Homo sapiens: one gene and its partners. The protein of the gene in region 4 interacts with the protein of the main gene of each other region in a pairwise test. Each region holds a gene or a part of one and is shown on either strand. Other genes may lie near its edges.

Evidence for each region.
Region 1: the proteins of NUP58 (region 4) and MRI1 interact in binary tests that used the Homo sapiens proteins (3 or more experiments, as listed by UniProt).
Region 2: the proteins of NUP58 (region 4) and ELK3 interact in binary tests that used the Homo sapiens proteins (3 or more experiments, as listed by UniProt).
Region 3: the proteins of NUP58 (region 4) and ABI3 interact in binary tests that used the Homo sapiens proteins (3 or more experiments, as listed by UniProt).
Region 5: the proteins of NUP58 (region 4) and TSACC interact in binary tests that used the Homo sapiens proteins (3 or more experiments, as listed by UniProt).
Region 6: the proteins of NUP58 (region 4) and ZNF488 interact in binary tests that used the Homo sapiens proteins (3 or more experiments, as listed by UniProt).
Region 7: the proteins of NUP58 (region 4) and KLC3 interact in binary tests that used the Homo sapiens proteins (3 or more experiments, as listed by UniProt).

What each region holds. Positions count from the first base shown.
Region 1 is NC_000019.10:13,767,522-13,771,021, reverse strand, and holds part of MRI1 (methylthioribose-1-phosphate isomerase), read right to left. Parts: intron 2,664-3,500; coding exon of another isoform or gene 2,575-2,663; exon of another isoform or gene 2,462-2,574; coding exon 2,285-2,461; intron 2,199-2,284; coding exon 1,974-2,198; intron 1,445-1,973; coding exon of another isoform or gene 1,425-1,444; exon of another isoform or gene 1-1,424.
Region 2 is NC_000012.12:96,249,875-96,253,374, reverse strand, and holds part of ELK3 (ETS domain-containing protein Elk-3), read right to left. Parts: intron 1-3,500. UniProt on the Homo sapiens protein: May be a negative regulator of transcription, but can activate transcription when coexpressed with Ras, Src or Mos. Forms a ternary complex with the serum response factor and the ETS and SRF motifs of the Fos serum response element.
Region 3 is NC_000017.11:49,220,707-49,223,725, reverse strand, and holds the end of ABI3 (ABI gene family member 3), read right to left. Parts: intron 1,657-3,019; coding exon of another isoform or gene 1,636-1,656; coding exon 1,501-1,635; intron 1,175-1,500; coding exon 1,011-1,174; 3' UTR 501-1,010; downstream 1-500. UniProt on the Homo sapiens protein: May inhibit tumor metastasis. In vitro, reduces cell motility.
Region 4 is NC_000013.11:25,304,625-25,308,124, reverse strand, and holds part of NUP58 (nucleoporin p58/p45), read right to left. Parts: intron 522-3,500; exon of another isoform or gene 485-521; intron 320-484; coding exon 177-319; intron 1-176. UniProt on the Homo sapiens protein: Component of the nuclear pore complex, a complex required for the trafficking across the nuclear membrane.
Region 5 is NC_000001.11:156,337,355-156,341,325, reverse strand, and holds the start of TSACC (TSSK6-activating co-chaperone protein), read right to left. Parts: upstream 2,801-3,971; 5' UTR 2,721-2,800; exon of another isoform or gene 2,587-2,720; coding exon of another isoform or gene 2,556-2,586; exon of another isoform or gene 2,462-2,555; intron 2,425-2,461; exon of another isoform or gene 2,401-2,424; intron 1,693-2,400; 5' UTR 1,592-1,692; coding exon of another isoform or gene 1,569-1,591; coding exon 1,535-1,568; intron 1-1,534. Other genes in the region: CCT3 (T-complex protein 1 subunit gamma), read left to right, coding at 3,142-3,172.
Region 6 is NC_000010.11:47,367,294-47,370,793, reverse strand, and holds part of ZNF488 (zinc finger protein 488), read left to right. Parts: intron 1-1,856; 5' UTR 1,857-1,964; coding exon 1,965-2,987; 3' UTR 2,988-3,500. UniProt on the Homo sapiens protein: Transcriptional repressor. Plays a role in oligodendrocyte differentiation, together with OLIG2. Mediates Notch signaling-activated formation of oligodendrocyte precursors.
Region 7 is NC_000019.10:45,343,750-45,347,249, reverse strand, and holds part of KLC3 (kinesin light chain 3), read right to left. Parts: intron 1,717-3,500; 5' UTR 1,709-1,716; coding exon 1,451-1,708; intron 707-1,450; coding exon 476-706; intron 1-475. UniProt on the Homo sapiens protein: Kinesin is a microtubule-associated force-producing protein that may play a role in organelle transport. Plays a role during spermiogenesis in the development of the sperm tail midpiece and in the normal function of spermatozoa.

The DNA of each region.
Region 1 (3,500 bases), on a different chromosome or scaffold from region 4:
CTCCTGAGCTCAAGTGATCCTCCCACCTCAGCCTCCCAAAATACTGGGATTTCAGGTGTGAGCCATTTTACCTGGCCCCATAATGCTAATATTGGTTCATGCTAATATTTCATGAACTGTTTTTTCTTTTTTTTCTTTGAGATGGAGTTTCACTCTTGTTGCCCAGGCTGGAGTGCTGTGGCGCTATCTTGGCTCATTGCAACCTCCGCCTCCCGGGTTCAAGCAATTCTCCTGCCTCAGCCTCCTGAGTAGCTGGGGTTACAGGCATGTGCCACCACGCCCGGCTAATTTTGTATTTTTAGTAGAGGCAGGGTTTCTCCATGTTGGTCAGGCTGGTCTTGAACTCCCGACCTCAGGTGATCCGCCCGCCTCGGCTTCCCAAAGTGCTGGGATTACAGGCGTGAGCCACAGCGCTCGGCCTTTTTTTTTATTTTTGAGATGGAGTTTCGCTCTGTCACCCAGACTGGAGTGCAGTGGTGCAGTCTCAACTTACTGCAACCTCTGCGTCCTAGGTTCAAGCAATTCTCATGCCTCAGCTTCCCAAGTAGATGGGACTACAGGCATGTGCCACCACGCCTGGCTAATTTTTATATTTTTTTAGTAGAGACGTGGTTTCGCTCTGTTGGCTAGGCTGGTCTGGAACGCCTGACCTCAAGTGATCCGCCCACCTCCGCCTCCCAAAGTGTTGGGATTATAGGCGTGAGCCACGGCATCTGAGTGCATGAACTATTTAAAGGGCCAGTCATTGATCTAAATGTCCTGTGGGTTAATTCACTGACCGCCCTTGGGTTTATGCAGCAGGTTCTAGCCATAGCCCATTTTACAGATAGGACCAGTGAGGATCTTAGGGAATTAGAGAATTTAGGGAACTTGCTAACGGTTGCACAGCCAGGAAGTATAGGCAGCTAAGAAAAGTCTTGCAGCTAGGCATGGGAGCTCACACCTGTAATCTCAGTGCTTTGGGAGGCTGAGGCAGGAGGATCGCTTGAGGCCAGGAGTTTGAGACCAGCCTGGGGAACATAGCGAGACCCTATCTCTATGAAAATAAACAAATAAAAATAAGTGTAGAAATATCTTGCTTTTTCTTTTCTTTTTTTTTTTTGAGACAGAATCTCACTCTGTTGCCCAGGCTGGAGTGCAATGGTGTAATCTCAGCTCACCACAACCTCCGCCTCTCAGGTTCAAGTGATTCTCCTCCCTCAGCCTCCTGAGTAGTTGGGACTACAGGCGGGTGCCACCATGTCCGGCTAATTTTTGTATTTTTAGTAGAGACGGGGTTTCACTATGTTGACCAGGCTGGTCTCGAACTCCTGACCTTGTGATCTGCCCGCCTCGGCCTCCCAAAGTGCTGGGATTACAGGTGTGAGCCACCTCGCCTGGCCGTCTTGGTTTTTCTTTACAAACACGTGGCCAGCCAGATATTCTTATTTCCTCTTAAGAAAACCTAAGTGGAGAATAGCAAGACAGTTACTCAAGATCATTCATATAACCGGTTAGTTGTAAATTCCAACATTGGATCTGACCTCCAGGATGCACCTGTTAGAAGAAGTGGCTTGGGCCAGGCGTGCTGTGGCTCACACCTGTAATCCTAGCGCTTTGGGAGGCAGAGGCAGGCTGATTGCTTGAGGTCAGTAGTTAATAAATAGCCTGGTCCACATGTTGAAACCTCATCTCTACTAAAAATACAAAAATTAGCCAGGCGTGGTGGCACCCACCTATAGTCCCAGCTACTTGGGGGGCTGAGGCAGGAGAACTGCTTGAGCCCGGGAGGTGGAGGTTGCAGGGAGCCCAGATCGTGCCACTGCACTCTAGCCTGAGGGACAGAGCAAGACTCCATCTCAAAAAAAAGAAAAAAGAAAAAGTGGCTTGTAGGAGCTGTGTATGTTCCAGAAGGATGACAAGGACCTGCATATCACCTGCCTCCATGAAGTGCCCAGGAGCTGGGGTGTCCCCTTTCTGAGGGGGCAGCTTACCAGGTGCTGCAATCCGGACCCCATTAACATCGGTCAGCTCCTGGCCCGGTCGCTCTTCAATAATGATCTCCTTGCCGGTCTCCAGACGGAGGTCACATGAAGAGCTGGGGGCAGCCACGTAGAAGGGAATGCCATGGTGCTTGGCGACAATGGCCAGCTGGTAGGTGCCCACCTTGTTGGCTGTGTCGCCGTTGGCAACCACGCGGTCAGCTCCCACGACCACAGCTGGGGAGGGGGCGTATGAGAAGTTGGGGGTCATTACCTGGCCCCATGCTCCAGAGCCCCGCCCCCAGGGCTTACCGTCTGCTTACCTGACACGCCCCTATGGGCCATGGCAGCAGCCACCATGCTGTCGGTGATAAGGGTGGCGGGGATCTGCTCATAGACCAGCTCAAAGGCCGTCAGCCGGGCTCCCTGGTTGTAGGGCCGGGTCTCTGTGCAGAAGGCATGCTCCAGGCGGCCCAGGCTGTGCAGTGAGCGAATCACACCTGCGGGGGCCCCACCCACCAGGAGAAGGCCCCGGGGAGGGGCAAACAGACAGGGTGGTCCATTGGTTAGGGGTGCAGGCTCCTAGTCTGGGCGTGGATTGCCAAAGGCTTACCGAGCACAGTCCCGCCCAGGGGCCCTCGCAGTGGCAGTTCCCTCTGCCTGGTATGCTCTTCCCAATGCTCGCATAGCTCCGTTTCACGTCTGTTTAAAGGACACCTTCTCGGTGAAGCCTTCCCTGATATATCAGTTTTGCATAGCAATCCCCACACTTTCAGTTTCCTGCTCTCTGTCCTTAGCATTTATCACCTTCTAACACCTCATGTGTACAGGCAGCCCCCCTTTTCTATGGGTTCTCCATCCATGGACTCAACCATGTGGATTGAAAATATTTGGGCTGGGCGTGGTGGCTCACGCCTGTAATCCCAGCACTTTGGGAGGCCTAGGCAGATGGATCACGAGGTCAGGAGATCGAGACCATCCTGGCTAACACGGTGAAACCCCATCTCTACTAAAAGTTCAAAAAATTAGCCGGGCGTGGTGGCGGGCACCTGTAGTCCCAGCTACTCGAGAGGCGGAGGCAGGAGAATGGCGTGAACCTGGGAGGCGGAGCTTGCAGTGAGCCGAGACTGCGCCACTGCACTCCAGCCTGGGCAACAGTGCAAGACTCTGTCTCAAAAAAAAAAAAAAAAAAAAAAAAAGGAAAGAAAGAAAATACTTGAAAAGAATCGCTGGAACCCAGGAGGCAGAGGTTGCAAGGAGCCAAGGTCGTGCCATGGCACTCCAGCCTGGGTGACAGAGCAAGACTCTGTCTCCAAAATAAATAAATAAATAAAAAGCAATCCTCCCATCTCAGTCCCCTCCCGAATAGGTGGGACCACAGGTGCATACCACTACACCCAGCTAATTTTAGTATTTTTTGTAGAGATGGGGTTTTGCCATGAAGCCCAGGCTGGTTTTGAACCCCTGAGCTCAAGCGATCCGCCCACCTTGGCCTCCCGAAGTGCTGGCATTACAGGCTTAAAAATAGAGACAGGGTCT
Region 2 (3,500 bases), on a different chromosome or scaffold from region 4:
CAAGGAGGCAGAGTCATGAAGACTGGGGTGGCTGTGGCAGTTTCTTAAAATAAGACAATAATGAAGTTTGCCACATTGATTGACTCTTTTATTTATTTATTTATTTTTTTGGTGAGATGCGAGTTTCGCTCTTGTTGTCCAGGCTGGAGTGCGGTGGCGTGATCTCGGCTCATCACAACCTCCACCTCCCAGGTTCAAGTGATTCTCCTGCCTCAGGCTCCCAAGTAGTGGGATTACAGGCATCTGCCACCAAACCTGGCTAATTTTTGTACTTTTAGTAGAGACGGGGTTTTGCCATGTTGGCCAGGCTGGTCTTGAACTCCTGACCTCAGGTGATCCACCCGCCTTGGCCTCCCAAAGTGCTGCGATTACAGGCGTGAGCCAGCGCACCTGGCCCAATTGATTATTCCTTTCATGAAAGATTTCTCTATGGCATGTGATGCTGTTTGATAGCATTTTACCCAGAGTAGAACTTCTTTCAAAATTGGAGTCAATCCTCTCAAACCCTGCCGCTGCTTTATCAACTAAGTAATGTAATGTAAAGTTATGTAATATTCTCAGTCCTTTGTTGTCATTTCAACAATATTCACAGCGTCTTCAACAGGAGTAGATTCTATCTCAAGAAACCACTTTCTCTGCTCATCTGTGAGAAGCAACTACTCACCCAATCAAGTTTGATCAATAAATTGCAGCAATTTGGTTGCATCTCCAGGCTCCACTTCTAATGCTAGTTCTCTTGCTATTTCTACCACATCTGCAGTTCCCTCCTCCAATGAAGTCTTGAACCCTTCAAAGTGATCCATGAGGGCTGGAATCAGTTTCTTCCAAACTCCTGTTAATGTTGATATTTTGACCTCCTCCCATGAATCATGAATATTCTTAATAGCATCTAGGATGGTGACTCCTTTCCAGAAGGTTTTCAATTGACTTTGCCCAGATCCATCAGAGGAATCACTATCTATGGCAGCTGTAGCTTTATGAAATGTATTTATTAAGTAATAAGACTTGAAAGTCAAAATTACTCCTTGACTTCTGGGTTGTAGAATGGATGTTGTATTTGCAGGCATGAAAAATATTAATCTTCTTGTATATCTCCATGAGAGCTCTTGGGTAACCAGATGCACTGTAATGAGCAGTAATATTTTGAAAGGAATCTTTTTTCTGAGTAGTAGGTCTCACCTGGGCTTAAACTATTCCATAAACTGTGAAAACAGATGTGCTGTCGTCCAGACTTTGTTGTTCCATTTACAGAGCACAGGCAGAGTGTATTTAGTAGCACTGGCTTCAACTTAAAGTCACAAGCTGTACTAACAAGACTCAGCCTGTCCTTTGAAGCTCTGAAGCCAGGCATGGACTTCTCTTCTCCAGCTATGAAAGTCCTAGATGGCATCTTCTTCCAGTAGAAGGCCGTTTCACCTACAGTGAAGCTGTTTGACGTAGCCACCTTCATCAATGAGCGTAGCTAGATCTTCTGGACAGCTTACTGCAGCTTCTCCATTAGCACTCGCTGCTTCACCTTGCACTTTTATGTTATGGAGATGGCTTTTTTCTTTAAACCTCATGAACCAACCTCTGCTAGCTTCACACTTTTCTTCTGCAGCTTCTTCGCCTCTCTCAGCATTCAAAGAATTGAAGAGTTAGGGCCTTGCTCTGGGTTAGCCTGAAAGGAATGTTGTGGCTGGTTTGATCTTCTATCCAGACCACTAAAACTTTCTCCATATCAACAATCAGGATGTCCCACTTTCTTATCATTCATGTTTTCACTGACGTAGCACTTTCATTTCCTTCAGGAACTCTTCCTTTACATTTACATACTTAACTGGTATAAGAGCCCCCTAGCTTTAGGCCTGTCTCGGTTTTGGACATGCCTTCACCGTCATCATTCTAGCTTTGGATTTAAAATGAGAGATGCGCAGCTCTTCCTTTCTCTTGAACACTTTATAGGCCACTATAGGGTTATCAATTGGCCTAATTTCAAAATTGTTGTGTTTCAGGGAATAGGGAGACCCAAGGAGAGGGAGACACAGGAGAGCAGTTGGGACACACACAACACTGATCAAGTTTGACACAGGAGAGCAGTTGGGACACACACAACACTGATCAAGTTTGCTGTCTTATACAGGTGTGGTTCATGGTGCCCCAAAACAATGACAATAGTAGTATCAAAGCTCGCTGATCTCAGAGCACTATAACAGACATAATAGTAAGGAAAAAGTTGGAAATGTTTGAGAATTACCAAAATGTGACATTGAAACACGGAGTGAGTGTGTGCTGTTGGAAGAACAGACTGGCGCTGACAAGACTTGCTCAGCGCCAGGTTGCCACAAACCTTCGATTTGTAAAAACCACCAATTAATTGTGAAACGTAATAAAGCAAAGTACAGTAAAATGAGGGATGCCTGTATGAGGTGTGATAAGGTAACCACGTGACACAGGCCATGCCAAGGCTCCCTTACTTCTCCCCTTCTTCCTGCCATGATTCTAGCTGGAAATAACCAACCTTCGGAATTTGTACCTTCAGGGTATCGGGTTATTACAGCACACACAGCTTTCACCTCTTCCAAAGCCCACCACTAAGCAAAGCTGACAGCCCACAGATTATCAAATGTTTATGTGCACACAGCATCACACTGCACACAGCACACCCCCCACACACAGAGAAAAGGAGAGTTTCTGTGACAAAGTGCTCAGGTAAGAGGAAAACCACTGAAGCCTCACTGCTGCCTGTGGAACACCCTGAACCCCACAGTTGTCCTTCACTCCTGAGGCCGAAAGGAATTCCACAGAATGCCTGGCTGTTGAGAGCCACGCTGTTTCTGGCTGTCACCTGGAAGACAAACTACTGAGCTGGTGCTGGTGGGTGAGTTTCTGGGGCACCCCCTGAAGCAGCTCCCAGGGGAGGGAATCTGAGAGTCCAAATCTGACACTGACATACCCTAATCCTAAACCACCCCTGGCTTCAAGATATCCTATCTGATCTCAGGGAATCCGCCTGGGTGAAACCGGCTGCAAGAACTCAACTCTGAATAAGTACCACACCCCTGACTACCACCCGGGCCCCTCTGGTGTCTCCCTCATTGCCCCTTCTCTCCCTCCCTGTTGGCCACCCATGGCCATGCCAGGAGCAGAGCCCACACTCTGGGAATGTGAGGGAAGTTCAAAGTGGGGTCTGAGTCCCGAGGCTCTACCATCTCCCAGTGTAGCTGGTGACCCCCTTAGTTTTGCGTGGTTTAGAGGACTGCCTGGTGCCCCTCCTCCTCCTTTGACCCGAAGGCCCTCTCTGAGCCAGGTCCCTTTACTTCCACTCTCCTGCCCTGGGTCCAGATGCTGCCTGTTGCCTCCCTCCCCTCAGGACCATTTCTGGGCTTCCTGGCACTAAATCATCACAGCCCCACCCTCACAGCTTGGCTGAGGACCAGGCACCCTCACTGCCTAAGGCACAGGTCCTCTTGTAAAGATCCTGGCTTTCCTACGCCTTCCCACCTAGTTTCAGGCCATGC
Region 3 (3,019 bases), on a different chromosome or scaffold from region 4:
ACTATTTCTGTGCTGTCCACACTCTCTTGCCTCCCGACCCCCGCACTCCCTTCTAGCACCCCCAAAGGAAAAGCCAGAGGAACAATCGCCTCCTGGTGGTGGTACGAGGTAGCGCACCGTCCGGCTCGGGTCCGGACAGCCAGTAACCTCGCAGAGAGTGACGGTGTCTCCTTGCATCCCAGCCTCGTCTATGCAGCAAGAGACCAGGGACTTCACCAAAGTCACCCTCGCGGGCTGGGCCTTCCACGCATCCCCCCCACCCCCCATGGAACAGAAAGCCATGTTTTTAAGCAGAACCAGCGAAACCCAAGCCCCTCCTTCCTCTGGTGTTTTACAACTATAAAGGAGGTGAAGGGGGAAGAAATGACTGAGATCTCTCTCGCGACAGTCTCAGAGTTGACAGTGAGGTGCTCTCGGAGAGCCCCGCTTAAGTCATGGAGATCGTTCCCACTCTTGGGCAAGTGCCCAGCCACATATGAACACACCACACACACAGCAAGCAATGGGCAAAAGAACAAGTTGCAGTCAATGGCTGCAGAGGGGTGTCTGGGGTCCAATGTGGGCTGCACTTTGTGGGTACTGAGGAAATGGGAAGATGCTGCTTCTAGGTCAGCTGGTGGGTTGGAGGTTGGGGGCTGTAATTAGCAGCAGCCTTAGAACTGGGATGCCTTTCAATCCCTCCTGGCCCCTTATCTCTGTGGGGCAGTCACAGGACATCATCTGTTTTATTCAAAGTTGGGACTTGCAGCAGGAGACCCTGTCCTGCATGGAGTAGGGGTCCTCTGTTGACAAACTTCTTGGTTTCCAGCTCTTCCCCATCTGCAGCAGGCCTCTGGATAAATTCTCTCTCCCCAGGACCCCTTCTCCCTCCGATGGGAGGAAGGACAGAACACAGCTCACAGCCCAAGAGGTGGGCAGACCCAGTCCAGCTGTGACTGGAGCTGGTTTTGGCTTGGGGCTCATGAAACCCACTCAGTGCAGACATCAGCTGCCCAGAGAGCCCTGGGCTGTCAGCAGCTGGGCTCCACATAGTTCCCAGGGAAGAATCCAGTCCCCTCTGAGCTGACGCCCTCGCACCAGCCATCGGAGTAGCGGCGAGTGACACAGATGACAGTGCCCTCAGAGAAGGAGAGCTCATTGTCCTTCTGGCTGGTGTATGGGTACAGTGTCACCACTGCAGGGCAAGAGAAGAGGGTGCCGTGAGATAATGCCTCTTGCCCTCTCCCCCTCACCCCCCACCACCATGGGGATGCACGGTCTCAAGTACTAGACTCTAGGGGCCATCTTGGGGGCCTTCTTGCAAGCCTTCAGGACCCCTCCCCAGCTTAGTTAATATTTAATACCAGGCCAGCTGCCCTCTCCCCAGTTCTGTCAGTTCGTCAGAAAAATTGTGTGGGGGGCCCGGGGGATAGATTCACACCTTTGCAGAGGGAGGAGAATGGGGATCAGGGCAACAGAGGAAGTGGGATCCGGTGCCCCTCAGTCCCAGAAGTCAGGTACCTTTCTCCAAGTATGAGGCAGGCACCCAGCTGGGCTCATCAGGCCCAAATCCTGGTGGGGGTGGAGGCAGCCCCAATTCATCTCCATCCAGGGGTGGAGGAGGAGGCAGGTCCAGTGGCAGGGGCAGCTCTTCGTCTTGGGGGAAAAGCAGAAAGGCTGTAAGTGTGGCACAGGAAGCTCCTTCAGTGTGTCAGGGAACTGCTCAAGAGCTGGACCCCAGAATCCACCCATCTCAGCGAGGCACGTTGGGAGGCCAAGGCGGGCAGATCACCTGAGGCCAGGAGTTCGAGACCAGCCTGGCCAACATGGTGAAACCCTGTCTCTACTAAAAATACAAAAATTAGCCGGGCATGGTGGCACACGCCTGTAATTCCAGCTACTCGGGAGACTGAGGCAGGAGAATGGCTTAACCCAGGAGGTGGAGGTTGCAGTGAGCTGAGATCTTGCCAACACACTCCATCCAGCCTGGATGACAGAGTGAGACTCCATCTCAAAAGAAAAAAAGAATGCACCCATTTCATGCAATCTTCCTCCAGCCCTCTCCTGTCCTGGTCTTCCCACAGTGCTGCTAGCACATAGTTAAGTGCTCAGTAAACCCTGAAAGATCCAGCAGTAGAGGACGGTCAGACTCTGCCTCTTATTAGCTGGGTGGCTCTTGGGCAAGTCACTGAACCTCAGCGTCAGTGGCTTCATCTGTTAACGGAGAGTGGTAAAGACCCTCTCAGGATTAAGTTTATTTTGTTTTATTTTTTTTTGAGACCGAGTCTCGCTGTGTCGCCCAGGCTGGATTGCAGTGGCACGATCTCGGCTCACTGCAAGCCCCACCTCCCGGGTTCACGCCATTCTCCTGCCTCAGCCTCCCGAGTAGCTGGGACTACAGGCGCCCGCCACCACGCCCGGCTAATTTTTTTGTATTTTTAGTAGAGACAGGGTTTCACCATGTTAGCCAGGATGGTCTCGATCTCCTGACCTCGTGATCCGCCCACCTCAGCCTCCCAAAGTGCTGGGATTACAGGCGTGAGCCACCACACCCGGCCTTTATTTTATTTTTTTGAGAGGGAATCTCCCTCTGTCACCCAGGCTGGAGTGCAGTGTGGTGATCTCGGCTCACTGCAGCCTCTGCCTCCTGGGTTCAAGTGATCCTCCTGCCTCAGCCTCCTGAGTAGCTGGAATTACAGGCACGCACCACCACGCCAGGCTAATTTTTGTATTTTTAGTCATGTTGGCCAGGTTGGTCTCAAACTCCTGACCTCAAGTGATCCGCCCTCCACAGCCCCCCAAAGTGCCGGGATTACGGCCGTGAGCCACCCCGCCTGGCCCTTAGGATTAAGTTTATTATTATTATTATTATTATTATTATTATTATTATTATTATTATTTTGAGATGGAGTTTCGCTCTTGTTGCCCAGGCTGGAGTGCAATGGCGCGATCTCGGCTCACTGCAAACTCCGCCTCCCAGGTTCAAGCGATTCTCCTGCCTCAGCCTCCCGAGTAGCTGGTATTACAGGCTTGCGCCACC
Region 4 (3,500 bases):
GATTGGGCCTATCACTAGCCCTTAATTCCAATTCCTTGCATTTCTTTTCATCTTAGCATTTACCATTTTTTAAGGTCTACTACCAGTGATGATCCTTGTAAAGAGAGATACAGGACACAATTTAGGAAAGAATATCCCAAGCCTACTCTCTGACAATGTGATCAGATCCTCCTCACCTGTATTTGTTCCTCCTAGAGTGAACCCAGTGGCAGGTTTAGATCCAAAGAGCCCGGTTCCAAAACCACTTGAAGGAGCAGATGTAGTTGCTGGAGTTGAAGTACTTCCAAGATTTCCAAAATTGAGCCCCACAGAAGGGTTGCTTATTTAAAGAAACAAAAACAAAACAAAAATCACATGCACAAAAGGAGGTCTACTAGAGCCAATATTTACTTAAGAAAAATAAAAATTAACTCTTCAAGATAATTTCATTCACATAACATATCTAATACATTGTCATAGGACCCAAAAAGAAAAATAAATTTACCTTTAACCCATCAAGTTCAAATATGTTTCTGTTCTTCCTTAAAAATAAATCCACATGTAAAAGTAGTCTTAAAAAAAAATAAATCCACATGTAAAAGTAGTCTTAAAAAATACAATACCAGATTTCAGGCTGGGTGTGGTGGCTCATGCCTGTAATTCCAGCACTTTGGGAGGCCGAGGCAGGTGGATCACAAGGTCAGGAGTTCGAGACCAGCCTGACCAACAGGGTGAAACCTCGTCTCTTCCAAAAATACAAAAATTAGCCAGGTGTGGTGGTGGCACACGCCTGTAATTCCAGCTACTCAGGAGGCTGAGGCAGGAGAATTGCTTGAACCCGGGAGGCAGGTCGCAGTCAGCTGAGATAGTGTCACTGCACTCCAGTTTGAGTGACAGAGCGAGACTCCCTCTCAAAAAAAAAAAAAAAAAAAAATACAATACCAGATTTCAAGAAAAGCAGTCTACAGCAATAAGGATTCCAGATCTCAAGGTAATCATAAGTAGGGATCACAATTATTCTGCTTTCACCAATGTTTGAAACCTAGCATATTTTTAAATGGTCATAGAAAAGTTATTTTAAATTATCTTCACTAGCTTTCCATTGCTACATTACCACATTCATGGGGCAATGTGGTGTTGGGGAGAGTATAGACTTAGGTATTTTACCACCAAAAAAAGCATAGAAAAACTAGTGGGGACATTTCCTGGCAAAAGTTAAACGCAAAGCAAAATCACCCTGTCTCAGGATCATGTATTCATTAACAGAAACTCTTCAGAGCACAGTGCAAAGCTTAAAAAAAGAACAGCTGATAAAAACAAGTGAAAGTGAACAAACTTCACAACTTTTCAACTACTCTTATCAAGACTCAGGGGTTCAGATTTGCTATGAAAAGGTGGGAAGACAAACTGTGAAAATAAGCAAATTTTGACAAGTTGACACTTCCAAAATTATGTAGGAGATTTAAGGGAGACTATACAGCATAATGGCAAATTCTCTTTATCCTACATATTTATCTTTATTATTTCCTTTGCTGCCCTTCCATAAAGAATAATCACCATGGGAGAACCCAATGTCATTTTTAAAGTCTCAAAAGCCCTGGCAGCAGTAGTGTGGCTGGGTTCCAGTACCAATCCCCCCATGTTCTGGTACTTGTGTGCCATTACTTAACCTTTCTGAGCCTCTATTTCCTCATCTGCAAAACAGGAATTAACAGTACCCACTTAGCAGATTTTTTTTTTTTTTTTTTTTTTGAGACGGAGTCTCACTCTGTTGCCCAGGCTGGAGTGCAGTGGCACTCCGCAAGCTCCGGCTCCCGGGTTCACCCCATTCTCCTACCTCAGCCTCCGGAGTAGCTCAGACTATAGGTGCCTGCCACCACACCCAGCTAATTTTTTGTATTTTTACTAGAGACAGGGTTTCACCATGTTAGCCAGGATGGTCTCAATCTCCTGACCTCGTGATCCACCTGCCTCGGCCTCCCAAAGTGCTGGGATTACAGGCGTGAGCCACCGCACCCGGCCAGCAGAATTTTTTTTTAAATATAAGGGTTCAGAGCACAGGATGAATTAACTTCAATAAATGTTGTTATGACTGTTATCATTAGGGATACTTATAAATTTAACTAAACATATTATGTACAAGGCGTTATGCCAGGAATAGCAAGGGAGCAGAAAGATGTCCCCTAGTCAAGGAACATGCCGTTTACCAGGGGGATAAACAACACAAATAACTGTACTCCAAGCCAGAAGAGTTCTCCAAGTTACTTGGGTCCGGGTGTCTTCAATTTCATAATCAGCTTAAGAAGCCACTCAAATTTTTGCAAACACTGGGAGACAAGGAGGAAAAGAAATACTCAAGCAGGAGATAATTCAAGCAGTAGAAATGTACACACCTTCAGTAAGTTTAGAATTACTATAAGTAAGATTATAATCAAGTACCAAACGATGGCAAAGAGATACTGCAGAAGTTTGAGGCAAAGAGCTAATCACTGTGAGGGGAATGGAGGTGGAGGAGCTTATTAAGGGTAGAACTTGAGATGTGCCATCCATACTGAGTAGGTAAAAGGAGAAGTACTGATTTTTAAAATGTGTTTGTGTGCACCTTGGGCATATGAAGGCGAGGCAGGAGACAAAGCAGGGCGGTAAGCTCTCGCTAACAATTAAAACACAGATCTTGACCAGGCCGGGTGGCTCACACCTGTAATCCCAGCACTTTGGGAGGTTGAGGTAGGCAGACTGCTTGAGCCCAGAAGCTTGAGCCCAGCCTGGGCCACATGGTGAAACTCTCTCTACCGAAAAAACAACAACAAAAAACTTCCAAAAAACAAAAATTAGCCAGGCGTGCCAATGCACACCTGAATGTAATCCCAGCTACTCAGGAAGCTGAGGTGGAAAGATCACTTTAGCCCAGGAGGTGGAGGTTGTAGCGGGCTGAGATTGCGCCACTGCATTCCAGCCTGGGAGACAGGGCAAGGCCCTGTCTCAAAAAAAAAAAAAAAAAAAAAAAAAAAAAAACCCCACAGATCTTTAAACATTTAGTCTTAATTTAAAAGGTATTTTTAACAACATATTGCTACAATCAAAACTAAGTGAGATCACACACACAGAAACCTAAGTGAGCGCTACAAGCAAAAGAATATAGTATGTAATGGCTATATCCAGACAACATAGGTAGTACAACCATAAAAGGGGCATATATGCCAAAACATTTAGCTTAGCTGGTAGTAGTCTGATCGTATTGTTATTTTGACACTGTTGTGTGTATAATGTGGAGTAGGGTAAATGAGTATTTGGGGGATACTAAAACATTACTGCCGGCTGGGTGTGGTGGCTCACGCCTGTAATCCCAGCACCTTGGGATGCCAAGGTGGATGGATCACCTGAAGTCAGGAGTTTGAGACCAGCCTGGCCAACATGGTGAAACCCCATCTCTACTAAAAATACCAAAAATAAAAATAAAAAATTTAGCCGGGTGTGGTGGCGTGCCTGTAATCCCAGCTATTTGGGAGGCTGAGGCAGGA
Region 5 (3,971 bases), on a different chromosome or scaffold from region 4:
TACATTTCACTTGAGGAAACTTAAGTCATGAAATTTGCTCAAGATTCCACAGTTGATATGTGTGGCTGCATGAATAATGTTTTTTTAGTTAGGCCTAGCTTTATACCCTTAGCCCATCCCTTAGTAGCAGTTAATTTAAATGTTTCGATCTGTTGTGGGGTTAATAGTATTTTCTAGTAGAATCGTGAGCATTAAATAAGTGGTAAACTGGCCAGGCGCGATGGCTCACGCCTGTAATCCCAGGACTTTGGGAGGCCAGAGTGGGCGGATCACTTGAGGCCAGGAGTTCAAGACCTGGCGTAACCCAGTCTGTACTAAAAATACAAAAATTAGCCAGGCGTGGTGGCATACACCTGTAATCCCAGCTACTTGGGTGGCTGAGGCACAAGAATCACTTGAATCAAGGAGACAGAGGTGGCAGTGATCCTAAGTAGGTAAACTGCTTAAGAGGGTCTGGCAAATAGCAGCTGGAATTAAATTTGGTCCTGTAGACTCCAAAGTCATGCTCTTTACCACTGCACTATATACTCTGTGAAAAGAGCCAGTTAATTTATGCCCAAGCTGGGGCTGGGCGCGGTGGCTCACACCTGTAATCCCAGCACTTCGGGAGGCCGAGGCAGGCGGATCACCTGAGGTCAGGAGTTCGAAACCAGCCTGACCAAGATGGCGAAACCCCATCTCTACTAAAAATACAAAATTAGCTGGGCGTGGGGGTGCACGCCTGCAATCCCAGCTACTCGGGAAGCTGAGGCAGGAGAATTGCTTGAACCCGGGAGGCAGAGGTTGCGGTGAGCCAAGGTAGTGCCACTGCACTCCAGCCTAGGCAACAAGAGCAAAACTCTATCTCAAAAAAAAAAAAAAAAAAAAGGCCGGGGGCGGTAGCTCACACCTGTAATCCCAGCACTTTGGGAGTCCAAGGCAGTTGGATCACAAGGTCAGGAGATTAAGACCATCCTGGCTGACACGGTGAAACCCCGTCTCTACTAAAAACACAAAAAAATTAGCCGGGCATGGTGGCAGGTGCCTGCAGTCCCAGCTACTCAGGAGGCCGAGGCAGGAGAATGGCGTGAACCCAGGAGACGGAGCTTGCAGTGAGCAGAGATGGTGCCTCTGCACCCCAGCCTGGGTGACAGAGCGAGACTCCGTCTAAACAAAAAAAAAATTATGTCCAGGCTATGGAATGGTAGGTCTTTCAGATAATCTGATCCAGCTAAAGTTAAGTGGATAGGCTCTGGAGTCAGAAGGCCTCAGGCATTTCCCTGGCCCACCAATGGGGCTGTCCCACTACAACTCAGTATCTCTTCACTCTAGTTAACACCATGTCTTCTAAGATCCTGTACATAGTCTTGTTCTAAGTATTAAGAGGAGATACAAAGGAAGAATAATAAATTCATTTAACAAATAATTACTGAGCATCTACTATTTAACAGATCCAGTTCTAGGTGCTGGGAATACAGCAATGCTCCCATTTAGTGGGGAATGCAAAGGAGGTCTTGCTTTTTAAGGGAGGGGAAGCAGGGCCTCCAACACACACCTTTTCTGTTAGGATGACTAGTGTGCCGCTCCATCTGAACACCAACAGGTGTGGTGCCTGGGAAAGAATCATAGCATCAGATGATCAACAATCCATGTTAGTATTTTCACTATGATAATTTCCTAAGTTGTCTCCAGCAGATCTCAGCCTGTTCCAATCTGCAGAGGAAAAAGTAGGAAACTCTATTTCATGGCCAAACAGGTGACTGTTCTTGAACTGTTGGTGCTCTCACGGCCCCTTCACTAGTTTGGAAAACAGTTTTCCTTTAGTGCTTCCTTTTTTTTCTGGACAAAATAGTAATTTAACCAAACCCAAACCTTAAACGTCTCTGACGAACAGGCAGTTACTTTCCGTGTTCTCACCATGTTTAATTTCCACGGTATGATAAGTCCTTCTCCTATCCCGAATGGTAATTTTAAAACTCTGGCTCCCCATCATCTCTAACTAAGACTCAGGACAGCGGGAGAGGGATGGATGTGGGGGAAAAAAATCTCAAAGCACCACAGGGAATACTTTTTTTTTTTTTTTTGAGATGGAGTCTCGCTCTGTCGCCAGGCTGGAGTGCAGTGACACGATGTCGGCTCACTGCAACCTCCGTCTCCAGGGTTCAAGCGATTCTCCTGCCTCAGCCTCCTGAGTAGCTGGGATTACAGGCGCGCGCCACCACGCCCGGCTAATTTTTGTATTTTTAGTAGAGACGGGGTTTCGCCATGTTGGCCACGCTGGTCTCGAACTCCTGACCTCAGGTGATCCACCCGCCTCGGCCTCCCAAAGTGCTGGGATTACAGGCGTGAGCCACAGCGCCCGGCGGAAATACTTGGGAAAATATTTTAGATAGGATAACTTAAGGAAACGCAAGCCATCACCCTCCGGTACTGCTCACAGCCTCACTGAAAGCATTTCCTAAGAAGGGAAAAGTCCACATACAGCCATTAGTCCAGAGGCGATAAACCACAACTCCCAGTGTGCCCGGAAAAAGGCTGCGCAGTCCGGCCCGGTAAGACTACAACTCCCACTTCACCCTGCGCCAAGCCGGCAGGTCTTTCCCCCATGTGCTGGCTGGAGTCCCGCCTCTCTAGTCCACCTGTTGCTAAGGCTAGACCAAAAGAGTGGGAACTGTGAAGCCTTTCTTAGCCTTCACGGTCCGATAGGAGCCGAGTCGCAATACACAGTTTAACGACCTCACCTGCGGTGTTAACCGAAAGCCGCAACCCCAGCACCCAACCCTAGAGTTGACACACATGCGTAGTGGTGTGCTGGCCAACTGCCAGAGCCTTGGCGCCTGCGCCGACGTTCGCGCTGCACGCGGCCGGGAGCGGCCACCCTACTGCGCAAGCGCCTGTGCCCTCCCAGTGCCTTCGTCGTGCGCTCTCTGTCTAACTTGTCTGGCCGTTCTTGCGTAGGGGGCGGGACTAAGGCTGTCAATTGGTCTGTTTTTGTGCCGATCAATGAGATGGGTGCGGTGATTGGCGACTACCTTGAGAGTAGCGGGTTGAGGTGTAAGCCCTGAGGAGGCAGCGTTTTCTGGGCTTCTGTCTGGTTCTCTCTCTCCAGAAGGTTCTGCCGGTTCCCCCAGCTCTGGGTACCCGGCTCTGCATCGCGTCGCCATGATGGGCCATCGTCCAGTGCTCGTGCTCAGTGAGTTCTGGGGATGCCAGGAAATGGACCCCCTTTTCGCCCTCTTCTGTCCATACTTTTCAGTGTTGCCCCAGCTCCGTCCCCCACTGACCGGGCCACTGAGCCTTCCAATCATCGTCTTCATTTTGGAAGCCCAGTGTCCCGCTTTCCTCTCTTCTCTTAACCTGTTCGCTTCTCTGCACAAACTCAAACTGGCCTTATTCTCGCCGAGCCTCTTTCCTTGACGTGTGCTCGTCTTGGGAAGCTCTTTCCCACTCCGCGTTCTGTCCCTCAGCCCCCACGCTTCCCCCGCCCCTGCGCCCTTTCTAGCCTGATTGTCGCTATGTAGCTGCACGAATAACGTTTTTTTTTGTTTTTTTTTCAGTTAGGTCTAGCTTTATATTCTTGGCCCATCCCTTAGTAGCGGTAATTTAAATGTTTCAATCTGTATTACGGAGTTAACAGTATTTCCTAGTAGAATTGTGAGAATTAAATGAGGTAAGTCGGTAGACTGCTTAAAGAGGGTCTGGTAAATAGGTAATATCCTTGGTCACTTTACGTTACATTTATTTTCAGTAACAGTCTCTTGAACAGCAATCCCTTTTCCCGAAGTAACCGTACTTGCCTCACTGATCTTAGATGTAATCGTTCCCTCCGTGTCCCCGGCGTTGTACTCTTTCCCACTAACCAGTTGGGTTTTCCCAGATTTCTCGACTGGTCACCTTTTCCTTTTGGAAGATCCCTTATTTTTTTTCTTTTTATATTTTGAGACAAAGTCTCGCTCTGTCACCCAGGCTGGGTTGCAGTGGCGCGATCTCTG
Region 6 (3,500 bases), on a different chromosome or scaffold from region 4:
CAAATCTATAATCTTTTTGTCCTTTTGCCTCCTCAGCATTCGTTCATAAGCATAGCGAGCATCACTGTCCGAGGCTGCACAGTGCTTCGTCTTGCGTATGCATCCTGCTTTGTTCACCATGTCTCTGGAGTTACGCATTTACTTGCTTGTTGCTTTCACCACTATAAACCATGCCTCATTTCCCTCTCCTGTTAGGCAGATCTGACCCTTCAGCCTGCCTCTTCCAGCCATGGTCAGACTGTTGTTAGTCCAGCGCCTGAGGGAGAGTACTTTCAGAGTTCCAGGCCCTTGTGTGACCTCCACCCTTAAGGTGACTCTTGGCACCCACAGGCCAATCAGCTGTATTCTTAGAGAGCTCTCAGAATACAGGCTGGTGGGCTATTTCCCTAAGGAAAAGCTGGGTGGGTTCTCACTGGGGTTGGAACCAAGGGGAGATGAGGAAATGGGAATAGGTTGGACGCCCTTGGTGGAGCTTCATAGTTTGATTTTACATCAGAGTTGGAAAGCAAAGCATACCCTTCTGCTACAGCTAGTGGTTTCCCCACCTGCGCCTGAGCTATGGACTGGGCAGGGGCCAAGTGCCCAGCAAGGAGCACAGGGAAGGAGCAGGAGGTGGAGAAGCTCAGAGGCAGGCTGCAGTAGGCTCCTCGCCCTTCTCACCATGCGGATGTCTCCTCCCTTGGCCCTATGGGAATATGGAGGGCTCACATTCTCCTCTCTGTGCAGGAGCAGGTCTCCACACTCTTTGGGAGGAGGAAGTTGACTTCTTTCTAACAGTTGCTGTCCTGTCATTCATTCATTCATTCATTCATTCAGCAAAGGCTTCCTGAGCTCCTGTCCTGTTGCAGGCTTGATTAAGTACTACAGATGTGAAGGTGAATTGACATATTTGGGTTCTTAGAGTTTGCCTTCTAGCAGACCACAAACAAGTAAATATAATGTTGCACGTGGTGCATGCAGGCCTTTGGTGCCCAGGACAGTGAGGGCATGGAGGAGGGAGTGTTGTCTGTGTCTGAGAGCACTGGGCAAGCCTCAAGGGGAGACTGTGCCTGAGGTGCATTTTGGAATGAGTTCACAGGTACGATGGGAATGAAGCTGCCCACATGTACTTGGGAGTTGGGGGAAGAGTGGGGACACTTGACTCTCACAAGAAGCATGGCTCTGAGAAAATCAGAGACCGCGCAGAAGCTGACAGGGCATGTGATGTGGACAAAGGGGCCACCAGGCTGGGAGGCAGGTCTGGTAGACCGAGGAGCAATGGGTTGAAATTAGGGTCGGGACAGAGAGGGCTGCATGAGGAGCAAAGACCATGAAGTCCATGGTCCTCCAACACTGCGACCCTCATGCTGCGGCCTCCCTGTGCCCTCAGCACTCAGCCAGGGCCAGAGGTAGCTCGAGCATGGAGCAGGGGCTGAGGGTGCATGGCTTCCTCATGATGGAGTCTACTTGTTGACAGATGACCCAGAAACTTCTGAAGGGCCCCCAAGGCCCTAATGCAGCCCCCAGAGCAGGCTCTTTCCCTTCCCCTGCAGACTCTCCATTTCATGCCTGGTTAATCCCCAGGAACCACTTTTGACAGGGGAATCCTACGTTTCTCTCTACTGAGCTGTAGAGGCTGCTGCCCATGGGCATTTTCAGCAGAGACCTCAGTCCCTACTCTGCCTCAGGGAGGTGGGCCCTGGAGGATGGTGCCATCCATGCTCCTTGTCTCCTGAGAGGTGGTGCAGTCAGCACACCCATCCCACAGACAGCGGAGGAGGCCTGAGCATCAGGGTCCTGTCTGATGCCAGCTCATGATGCACTGTGCCTGAGTGATGAATGCCCATCTCACTGCCTGTCGCTTCCTCTCTCTGCAGGGCCCTGTGGCCGAGTGTGTCCAGCCCAGTGTCATGGGGAGCTTCCATATCTCATGGCTCCTTGCTGGGCCAAGCCCTCCAGAACCCCAAACCCCCAAAGACTGATGAATGCCAGAGTGGCCACCTTGCTTATCTGTGGCCCCGGCCCTGGTGATCACCATGGCAGCTGGGAAGGGAGCCCCGTTGAGCCCATCGGCTGAAAACAGATGGCGACTTAGCGAACCTGAGCTGGGCCGGGGCTGCAAGCCAGTGCTGCTCGAGAAGACGAACCGCCTGGGCCCTGAGGCTGCTGTGGGCAGGGCGGGCCGGGATGTGGGCAGTGCGGAGCTGGCACTGTTGGTAGCCCCAGGCAAGCCCCGACCTGGCAAGCCGCTGCCCCCGAAGACACGTGGAGAGCAGAGGCAGAGCGCCTTCACGGAGCTGCCGAGGATGAAGGACCGGCAGGTGGATGCTCAGGCCCAGGAGAGGGAGCACGATGACCCCACAGGCCAACCTGGTGCCCCACAGCTGACCCAGAACATCCCCAGAGGCCCAGCTGGCAGCAAAGTCTTCTCTGTGTGGCCCAGCGGAGCACGAAGTGAGCAAAGAAGCGCCTTTAGCAAACCAACCAAGCGACCAGCAGAGAGGCCTGAGCTAACCTCAGTCTTCCCTGCAGGGGAATCTGCAGATGCCCTGGGGGAGCTGTCTGGACTCCTCAACACTACAGACCTCGCTTGTTGGGGTCGACTTTCAACTCCCAAGCTTTTGGTTGGTGATTTGTGGAACTTGCAAGCATTGCCACAGAATGCTCCACTCTGTAGCACTTTTCTGGGTGCCCCTACACTGTGGCTGGAGCATACCCAGGCCCAGGTGCCCCCACCCTCATCATCCTCCACCACTTCGTGGGCCCTCCTGCCACCCACCCTCACCTCCCTGGGCTTGTCCACCCAGAACTGGTGTGCAAAGTGCAACCTGTCCTTTCGCCTAACGTCCGACCTGGTCTTTCACATGCGATCCCACCACAAAAAGGAGCATGCGGGGCCTGACCCACATTCTCAGAAGCGGAGAGAAGAGGCCCTTGCCTGCCCTGTGTGCCAGGAGCACTTCCGGGAGCGCCACCACCTCTCCCGGCACATGACTTCTCACAGCTAGCAGGTGACCGCAGAATGACCTGCTGGGTGCAGCAGCCAGCCTTTGGCAGAGGGGGGCTCCCTGGGCCTGCGTTGAGGGGGCTGTCATGGTCCTTTGCAGAGCTGCTGCTTTTGGCATTCATAGATAAACAGCTCAGGCATAATTTGAAAAAGCCACACCTGCATGATGTGTTTTGAAGGAAATGAAGTCCTGAAATAAAGTGATGGGCTTTGCAAATCCAGGGTAGAGGCCCTAACAGGCACAGAGAGCAGGGGCAACTCCTGGCACACATCATGGGCTTTGGAGGCACACAAGCCTGGATTCGAATCTGGGCTCTTTCACATACTAGCTGTGACCCTGGACAAAGAGCTTTAACCTGCTGAGTCCCCATTTTCTCATCTGTGAAATGGAGATGATAACACTGTGTCTTAGGTTGGCATTCAGGTCACATGAAAGGTGTGTGGAAAGTGGCCAGCATTCTGCCTGCAGACCCTGAGCACTGAGTCAACAAGGTTTGTGATGATGTCTGTACTA
Region 7 (3,500 bases), on a different chromosome or scaffold from region 4:
CTGCCTCAGCTTCCGGAGTAGCTGGGATTACAGGCATGTGCCACCACACCCGGCTAATTTTGTATTTTTAGTAGAGACGGGGTTTCTCCATGTTGGTCATGCTGGTCTTGAAATCCGGACCTCAGGTGATCTGCTCGCCTCGGCCTCCCAAAGTGTTGGGATTACAGGCGTGAGCCACCGCACCCAGCCTATCTCAAGGTTTGAGGGAGGTGGTGGTCACGAGCGTCAGAGGCCCCCTGGGGGTCTGGCGAGGCTCGGGGGCTTCGTGGAGTAGCTAGTGGGGGCGTCTGTGGAAGTTCTGGTGGGTCTGGGGGCTCTGTGGAGGGTTGGGGGACTGTGGCATTCTAAGGAGGGTCTGGGGGACTGTGGGATTCTAAGGAGGATCTTGGGGACTGTGGGATTCTAAGGAGGGTCTGGGGGACTGTGGGGCTCTATGAAGGGCCCAGCACCCCCCGCCTCGCCCTGCCCGTGGCACCTGGCTCTCCGCCGGTGGGTCGTACTGTCGCAGCTGCCCCAGGAACTCCAGGTGGCGCTTCTCCTCCTCCAGCTGGGCCACGGACTCCTCGCTGGCCCGAAGCCGCCGCTGCGTCTCCTCCAGTTCCTCCCGCAGCCACACGTTCTCCTGGGCCAGCCGCCGGGCCTGCGAGCGCAGCCGCTGCTTCTCTGCCTCCAGTGCACCCACATGTGCCGACAGGGCCAGCAGCACCTGCCCGGGGTGGGGGTCCCAAGTCGAGGTTGGTTCCTGCCCTGCCAGACGGCCCCTGACCCAGCCCAGGCCTCGAGTCAGGCCGTAGCACCCCACTACTATGCACGACACCCCCAGATTCTGCAGAGACTCTGCCAACATGGCCCCAGTGCCCTCAGAGGCTCCCAGGGGCCCCTCTGATTTTACCCCCAAACTTGCCCTAGGACCCACAGTTTACTGAAGAATGCCATCTGGTTCAGGGGTCCCTGTCACACACAAGGACCCCCTAAAGCTGCCAAGGGACTCCATCTCTGACCTGGAGCCTCCCCTTCCCAGGCCTGGTTCCCCTAGGCCTCCCCCTGCCCCGGATGTGCCTCTCTGCCATACTTTTTTCTGTTGTTTTTTGGGACAGTCTCTCTCTGTCACCCAGACTGGAGTGGAATGGCACGATCTCCACTCACTGCAACCTCCGCCTCCCAGGTTCAAGCGATTCTCATGCCTCAGCCTCCTGAGTAGCCGGGATTACAGGAGCCCTCATGCCCAGCTACTTTTTGTATTTTTAGTAGAGATGGGGTTTTCCCATGTTGGCCAGGCTGGTCTTGAACTCCTGACCTCAAGTGATCTGCCCACCTCAGCCTCCCAAAGTGTGCCCCTCTGCAATAGTGAACCCTCTCCCAGTCCCCTACATACCTGTCCCCCTCATGCCTGGCCCTCCCTCCGCCCTCAGCTGACCTTCCCCCAGCTCCCCACCTGGCCCCCTCATACCTGGGCCTCGCCCAGCCCCAGCTCGATGGCCTCCAGCGAGTGGCTCACCACCTGCTGCTTTTCCTCCAGCATCTCCAAGCCGGCTGCCGGGCCCTGTCCCGCCAGGGCCTCCGCCAGGTGCCCAGCCAGGCCATGGTGCTCTGCCCGCAGCGCCTCCAGCCCCTGGACCACTTGCCGCGTCTGCCGCACCAGCTCCTCAGGGCTCAGGCGCTCTGGGCCCAGCCCTGCACTTCCAGGAGCCGCTACCTGCACAGACATTGCTGCTCCTGGGGAGCAATGGTGAGGGGTTTGGGGAATCATTGCCCGGGCCAGTCAGTTGGCCCCCAGCCTCTATTCCCATAATGGCCATCAGGACCCCTAACTTCTCCCCATCCTGGCTCTTCCCTGCTCCACCCATCCTGGCCAGCCCTCTGCCTCCACACCCTCTCCATCCCAGTCTCCACACCCATCCCAGCCAGCTCTCATCTGGAACAGTCTTGTCTACCTTCGTCTGTCCTCCCAACCCAGGGTTCTGCCCTGAGGACAGTTCCCAAATCCTATGTGTAATTAACCAAGAGAAAGCAAACAGCTAGCCTGGGGTCCCCCATCTGCCCTCAGCTCACCTGGCCAGCCTTCCCCACCCCAAGGCCCTTGGATCCCCTGGCCCAGAGCTCCCGGTTGGCCGTGTGACCTGGGACCAGAGGCACCCTCCTCTGCCGGCAGAGTGAGGCGGGGCGTGTGGAGGCGGCAGCCTCTGCGTGAGCTCATTCTTAGGGTGTTTTTGTCGGGAACCAGTCAGACCACTGGGGGTGGGTGGGGTGGGAGGAGAGGGCCGAGGGGCCAGGGCCCCCAGAAGCCCAGGAGGCCTCTAGGTTGGGGGGAATGAGGATGGGGCCATGTGTTGGCTCCCAGGCAACAGATGGACCCTGGGGGAACAGGGGCTCCGCCCTCCTCCATCGGACAAGCTTAGCCAGCCCAGGGCCTGTCGGGACACACGTGTGATAGGTGTGGTCCAGGTATGTCACACTGGCCATGTGACAGCTGAGAGTCTGAAGCCCAGCTCATAGTGGGTGGGGGCCCCCCTCTATGGGACTTCATGTGGTTGTATGTGGGTGACAAGGTCACAGAAACTTAGCTGGTGGTGCCTCTGGGGTCCTCATATACACACAAACACACTCCTCAGAAACACCTCACACACCCGCACCCTCCCTTCTTAAAGACACAATGCAACATACACATTTTCCTCTCCGAAATACAATTTGACACACACACGCACTCTCCCTTCTCTCCAATACAACATGGGGCCAGGTGTAGTGGCTCACGCCTGTAATGCCAGCACTTTGGGAGGCCAAGGTGGGTAAATCACTTGAGGCCAAGAGTTCAAGACCAGCCTGGCCAACAGGGTGAAACCCTGTCTCTACTGGAAAAAAAAAAAAAAAAATAGCAGAGCATGGTGGCGCATGCCTGTAGTCCCAGCTACTTGGGAGGCTGAGGCAGGAGAATTGCTTGAACCCGGGAGGCGGAGGTTGCAGTGAGCCAAGGTCGCACCACTGCAATCCAGCCTGGGCAACAGAGTGAGACTTCATTTAAAAAAAAAAAAAAAAAAGACGGTACACACACACACCCTCCCAGAAATACAGTTACACACACACACACACACACACACTCCCTCATTAGAAACACAATGTAGGCCGGGTGCGGTGGCTCACACCTGTACTCCGAGCACTTTGGGATTTTGGCTGAGGCAGGAGGATCACTTGAGCCCAGGAGTTCAAGACCAGCCTGGGAAACATAGTGAGACCCCATCCCTACAAAAATAAAAATAAAAAAATTAGCTGGGTGTGGTGATGGTGTACCTGGAGGCTGAGGTAGAAGGATTGCTTGAACCCAGGAGGTTGAAGCTGCAGTGAGCCATGATAGTGCCACTGCACTCAGCCTGGGTGAAAGAGTAAGACCCAGTCAAAAAAGAAAGAAAGAAAGGACAGCATAATATACATTCTCCTCTTAGAACACGCACTCACTTTCTCCTATTAAATATACAACTCAGTAAAAACATTTACATTTTCCTTTT